Homo sapiens: one gene and its partner. The protein of the gene in region 1 interacts with the protein of each later gene in a biochemical or structural test. Each region holds a gene or a part of one and is shown on either strand. Other genes may lie near its edges. The genes, in order: JAG2 and NOTCH3.

The links.
Region 2: the proteins of JAG2 (region 1) and NOTCH3 form a complex in vitro, tested with the Homo sapiens proteins (one study listed by BioGRID).

What each region holds. Positions count from the first base shown.
Region 1 is NC_000014.9:105,154,979-105,158,789, forward strand, and holds part of JAG2 (protein jagged-2 isoform a precursor), read right to left. Parts: intron 2,786-3,811; coding exon 2,728-2,785; intron 1,012-2,727; coding exon 760-1,011; intron 645-759; coding exon 584-644; intron 1-583. UniProt on the Homo sapiens protein: Putative Notch ligand involved in the mediation of Notch signaling. Involved in limb development.
Region 2 is NC_000019.10:15,158,356-15,160,895, reverse strand, and holds the end of NOTCH3 (neurogenic locus notch homolog protein 3 precursor), read left to right. Parts: coding exon 1-234; 3' UTR 235-1,858; downstream 1,859-2,540. UniProt on the Homo sapiens protein: Functions as a receptor for membrane-bound ligands Jagged1, Jagged2 and Delta1 to regulate cell-fate determination.

The DNA of each region.
Region 1 (3,811 bases):
TCCCCATCCCGCTGGCCCCTCCCCCACCACCCCCACATGCCCCACAGCGGCCTCCCCCTCACAGCCTCCCGTCTGGTGCTTCCCCACTCAACAGCTACCACAGCCCTTCCACCCACCTTGCCCAGCTACAAACCTGCCAGCAGCCCCTTCCTCTGTCCCTGGTCCTGCAGGCCTCAGCTCCCACCACTGGTCTGCTCTGCCGCCCCTCGCCTGCTGGTGTCACTTGCCGGCCGCTCGCCGCCCACCCCCTCCCCATGGGCAGGGTTACCGTGTCCTCTGCCCATGCCCCATCTCTGGGTGGCTTGCAGCCTCCGGGTCTCTGCCCCTCGGTGACGTGACTGTCCAGCCAGCCTCCCCAGTCTCTCCTCACTGTCCTCACATGGCTGCCGCCATCAGACACATCCCATGCTCAGACACGCACCTACTGCACTAAGGAGCCTCCCGAGCTCAGGGCCCGGCTCTCACAGCTGTGTGCCCAACCTCCAGCCAGCTCCGGGCGACTCCTGACAGCAAGGCTGTGTGTGCCAGTGAGGACGTGAGGGCAAAGGTTGGGAGGGCAAAGACGGGCCGGCGGCACACTCACCTGCACTCCCCAGGCACGGTGCATCCCCCGTGGAGCAAATTACACCCTTGTTTACACACAGCTGCGAACAGAGAGGAGCGAGAGGCACAGCTGCAGCCAGCCTGGCCGCAAGGCCTGTGCCCGGGGCCCTGCCCGAGGCCCTCCCTGCCCTCCACGCAGCCCAGCGGCCCCCTCACCTTCCTTGCACTCCTTGCCCATCCAGCCGTCCATGCAGGCCTTGTTGCCGTACTGGTCGCAGGTGTAGTGGCCGAAAAAGTCGTTGCGGGGCCGGCAGAACTTGTTGCAAGTGGCGCTGTAGTAGTTCTCGTCGCAGCGCACGCGGATCTGCAGCTCCAGGTGCGCCACGTGGCCGCTGAAGTGCAGGCTCTTCCAGCGGTCCTCCGGGTTGATCATGCCGGCATGCGACACTCGCTCGATCAGCAGCTCCTCTTGGGGAGGCGGCAGAGTCAGCACAGGCCAGAGAAACCAGCCCGGCCAGGGGTCCTCCAGGAACAACGGGGACGGGGCAGAAGCCTGCGGCTGCTGCAAGGCCGGGGCACAGCAGGCAGCAGCACACGGAGGGCAGGGCCCCCGGCCAGGCTGCTACAGAAAGCTCAGGGCCCCGAGAGGCCTCTCCCTCCCGCCACCAAGCCTGCGCCCCGCTCCCACCCTAAACGCAGAGGGTCGGGGGGCCCGGCTAGGGGCTAGGGGCCCTGCAGGGAGGGCTGCTGAGACCACAGGCTCCACAGAGAAGGCACGGCTGCTGCCAGGGCGTGAGTCTCACGTCCCACACCTGTGCCCACCCACCTGCAGCCCTGCTCCAACACCTGCACCCACCTGCGCCGTGTCCAGCCCTCGACAGCACGGACATGGTGCTCAGTTGCCCTCCCCTCTCCTGCGCTGTGACTTGCTCCCAGAAGTGCCAAACACCACTACCGTCCCCACCTTAAGACAAGCCTCCCCTCAGGCCCCCAAGACAGGCATAGGTCCCGTGACCCGCTGTCTAAGCCTCACTTTAAGTAAGCCACCAGGAGACCAGGGGCCAGGGGCACCACAGCTGCTGGCGCTGGTATGCAAAGTCCGTGATGCCGGTCCCTGCGCTTAGGCACAGGCTCGACGTTTTGCACAATAAAAGGTGAACGGGTCCTCCAGACCCCACCTCTCCCGCCTCGGGCCAAGGCCTGGGAGGACACTGTGCTGGCCCACTCCCCAAGGGGCGTCCCGGCCGCCCCAGCCTCTCCAGGCTCACGTTGTCAAGAGCCCTGACGACCTTGCTTGGGACTCAGCCCACCTGTCTCTCTGCCACCCCCTCAGGAAACACCCCTGCCCTGAGCCGCTGGGGTCCCCACAACTGCTGCTCCCCACCTGGGCACCCCCACCGCCGTCCCTGCCCTGAAAACAGCCCCTCCACTCTGCTGGCAGCCAGGATGCCCTGGCCCCGCTCTCCCTCCTCCAACCCATTGGCCAACCCCATGCCTCCACTTCTGAGAGCCCCTCTCACCCCCAGACTGCCCCTGGTCCAAGTCACCCTGACACGCCCAGATTCACGTGGCAGCTCCTCCTCGGTCTGTGTCCTGGCCCCACAGCCCACCCTCCATAAGGCAGCCACAGCTTGCCAGGCGGAGCCCGTGTCCTCTCAGTGGCTTGCCAGCCTCCATGATCTGAGCCCAGCCCCGGCTGCTCCCCCTGCACAGCCAGCCCGCTCCTGCCCAGACCTTCACACGAGCTGCTCCCTTGGCCTGTGGGTGCTTCTGCATTCACCCATGGAAGTCATCCCGTTACCCCTGCAGGGCCCTGCAGAGCCCCTGCCTCAGGGAGAGGGCCACCAAGGCTCCATGCTCCAGTACAGACAAGCAGAGGGGGCCACAAAGCCAGAGACACACTCAAGGGTGTCCCCTCCACTAAGTCACTGCCATGGGCCCCAAAAGAGCACACCCAAGAGGAGAACAACATAGGCAAAGCCAGGACTGGGGAAGAGAGTGCATGCACAGCTCTGCAAGTCCCAAACGTGGCAGAGCTTCCTGGCAGCCAAAGCAAAAAGGGAAACAGCACACATGATCCTCAGGGTAAAGCAAGGCTTTGTCCCAAGCAGACAGAGGAGCTGGGCCCTGCCACAGGCACGCTGAAGCTGAGAGGAGCTGCCACCTGGCCCAGGGCTCACTCACCATTCGGGGTGGTATCGTTGTCCCAGTCCCAGGCCTCCACGATGAGGGTAAAGGAGCGCTGCAGACATGGGGAGGCGGGTCAGGTACCTGAGGCCACACCTGCCTGCCTCGTTCAGGGTGGGACAAGGCCCAGGGCTCAGACGCTGCCCCTGGGTCTGCCAGGCTCTGGCCCTTCCTCCCCAGCCAGGGACCCACCACCCTCCTCATCCTCAGGCCACATCCTCTGCAGACCCAAAAATGACCCAGCTCAAGGGAGGGAGACTGCCCCTCCAGGCCACGCGGGCTCAGGGGCCTGGGCTCCCTACCGTTGGGGTGCCAGAGGCCCAGCCTGCCCTGAGCTGGCTCAAGTCAGCACGGAGCACAGGAAGAGCGACCGGGGGGAGAGGTGGGCAAAGGGCAGCCTGGCTGGAGTGGCCACAGACAGGGGCCCCATGGGCAGCCGGGACCCGAGCGTTTCCTGTGGAACGCCCCTTGGTGCCTCACTGGGGGTGACCACGGGGGAGAACGTGGGGCCCCATCACCACGCTGGCGGCCTCCACCAAGTGCACGGGGTGGCCAAGTACAGGGCGCCCAGCCAGAGGCCCCAACAGGCCGGAGCTCAGGTCCTGCAGGCATACAGCACACAGGCAAACCCACACCTACCTCCACCCTCACACAGAACAGGTGGCAGGAGGGGCCCTTGCGGTACAGTTGGGGAAACTGAGGCCAAGAGGTCCTGGGACTGCCCAGCACAGCCTCAGACCATGGCCACTATGCCCCCTCTGCCCCCGGGCCACCTGGCCCTTGTACCCCAGCCATGGCGACAGGCGATGCTGTCAGCCAAGCAAAGAGACCACAGGGCTGGCCCCCTGCTCCGCCTAGTGCAGCCCACGGAGACCGTCACTCACAGACATGCTCAGACAGGTGGGACCCCCGGGACATGCCCTGTACTACCCAGCACTGGGTACCCACATTCCACAGCCTCTCAGCCCTCACTGCCCAGGAACCCCCCAGTCTACCCCTGGTGTGCTCTTGACCCCTGAGCCCAGCCCTGGCTCCTTCCAGGTGGGGCCCAGAGGAGGGGGCTGGGGCTGAGTCACCTCAG
Region 2 (2,540 bases), on another chromosome or scaffold:
CTGACCCCATCCCCCGAATCCCCTGAGCACTGGGCCAGCCCCTCACCTCCCTCCCTCTCAGACTGGTCCGAATCCACGCCTAGCCCAGCCACTGCCACTGGGGCCATGGCCACCACCACTGGGGCACTGCCTGCCCAGCCACTTCCCTTGTCTGTTCCCAGCTCCCTTGCTCAGGCCCAGACCCAGCTGGGGCCCCAGCCGGAAGTTACCCCCAAGAGGCAAGTGTTGGCCTGAGACGCTCGTCAGTTCTTAGATCTTGGGGGCCTAAAGAGACCCCCGTCCTGCCTCCTTTCTTTCTCTGTCTCTTCCTTCCTTTTAGTCTTTTTCATCCTCTTCTCTTTCCACCAACCCTCCTGCATCCTTGCCTTGCAGCGTGACCGAGATAGGTCATCAGCCCAGGGCTTCAGTCTTCCTTTATTTATAATGGGTGGGGGCTACCACCCACCCTCTCAGTCTTGTGAAGAGTCTGGGACCTCCTTCTTCCCCACTTCTCTCTTCCCTCATTCCTTTCTCTCTCCTTCTGGCCTCTCATTTCCTTACACTCTGACATGAATGAATTATTATTATTTTTATTTTTCTTTTTTTTTTTACATTTTGTATAGAAACAAATTCATTTAAACAAACTTATTATTATTATTTTTTACAAAATATATATATGGAGATGCTCCCTCCCCCTGTGAACCCCCCAGTGCCCCCGTGGGGCTGAGTCTGTGGGCCCATTCGGCCAAGCTGGATTCTGTGTACCTAGTACACAGGCATGACTGGGATCCCGTGTACCGAGTACACGACCCAGGTATGTACCAAGTAGGCACCCTTGGGCGCACCCACTGGGGCCAGGGGTCGGGGGAGTGTTGGGAGCCTCCTCCCCACCCCACCTCCCTCACTTCACTGCATTCCAGATGGGACATGTTCCATAGCCTTGCTGGGGAAGGGCCCACTGCCAACTCCCTCTGCCCCAGCCCCACCCTTGGCCATCTCCCTTTGGGAACTAGGGGGCTGCTGGTGGGAAATGGGAGCCAGGGCAGATGTATGCATTCCTTTGTGTCCCTGTAAATGTGGGACTACAAGAAGAGGAGCTGCCTGAGTGGTACTTTCTCTTCCTGGTAATCCTCTGGCCCAGCCTCATGGCAGAATAGAGGTATTTTTAGGCTATTTTTGTAATATGGCTTCTGGTCAAAATCCCTGTGTAGCTGAATTCCCAAGCCCTGCATTGTACAGCCCCCCACTCCCCTCACCACCTAATAAAGGAATAGTTAACACTCAGTGTTGTTGGTCTGTGTCTAGGTAAGGTGGGGAGTGGTGGCAGTGGGACTTCTATCTCCCCCACCCAGGGCTAACTTGAGCTCCCATCTTGGGGTAAATACATTTGACTTGCCAGTCTACTTATGCTTCCTCTTTTGGCAGATGACTACCGATTGGATTAGTGGTTGTCACCTGACTTAAGCTGAGCCAATCAGATTCTTTTGCTCGAGAACTTTCTTTAATGGAGAGGCTAAGAAAGTTGTCAGTTGGTGGAGCTCTTAAGGTCACAATCAGATTTAGAAATATCAGTGGCCAATTCGAGGTGGTGGGCAAAGAGACAAGCAAACAGGGCAGAAGAATGAAGCTAATATTCAGGGAGAATCAGAAATGAGAGCTCAAATGGCTCCTTGAGGGCTGGGGGGGTTATCTCGGCTCCCAGTGCAGTTATCAATTCCAGTTAATTGAGTGTTCATTCCATTGAGATCAACAGGTATTTATTAATTGCTTTCTAAGTATCTGATCATGGTTCTGCATGAATTTCACTTTTACTTCATGCTCCTATGGGTTTTGGAGATAACCTTGGACCCATGTAATAAATACTTCTTTACTTGTGCCAGCTTCGGTGGGTTTCTGTTACTCGCAACCAGTCGTGCTCCAAGACAAGGTTCTGTTTACACTGGTGTCTTCAGGAAAGGAGGATAGGATTTAATGTTCGTTGATTCTGTCAGTTGGAGTGCTCCTGGTTGCAAATGACACAAAAGTCTACTGGCTTAAACAAGAAAGGGGTTTATTAGCTCATATAAATTAAAAGGACCTACTTCAGGGGAGAATTGATCTAGTGGCTCAAATGTGGTCAACAATGGCTCAGTTTCTCTTCATCTCTACAGCTTTCTCTGGGCATCAGTTTCATCTACATGCTCCACATGGCACCCAGTAGAACCTCTCTTCCCGACATCACACAGCTCCAGCCTTCTCTCTGTGTTATCAAAATAGGTGCCATATTGCTCCTTCCAGGGAAGAGAGAAACTCCTAGTATTGTGATTGATTTTTCTTTTACTTTCTTCCTTTTTTTTTTTTTTTTTTTAAGATAGAGTCTTGTTCTTGTCACCCAGGCTGGAGTGCAATGGCACAATCTCGGCTCACTGCATCCCCCGCCTCCGGGTTCAAGCAATTCTCCTGCCTCAGTCTCCCAAGTAGCTGGGATTACAGGTGTCCACCTCCATGCCTGGCTAATTTTTGTATTTTCAGTAGAGACAGGATTTCACCATGTTGGCCAGGCTGGTCTCGAACTCCGGACC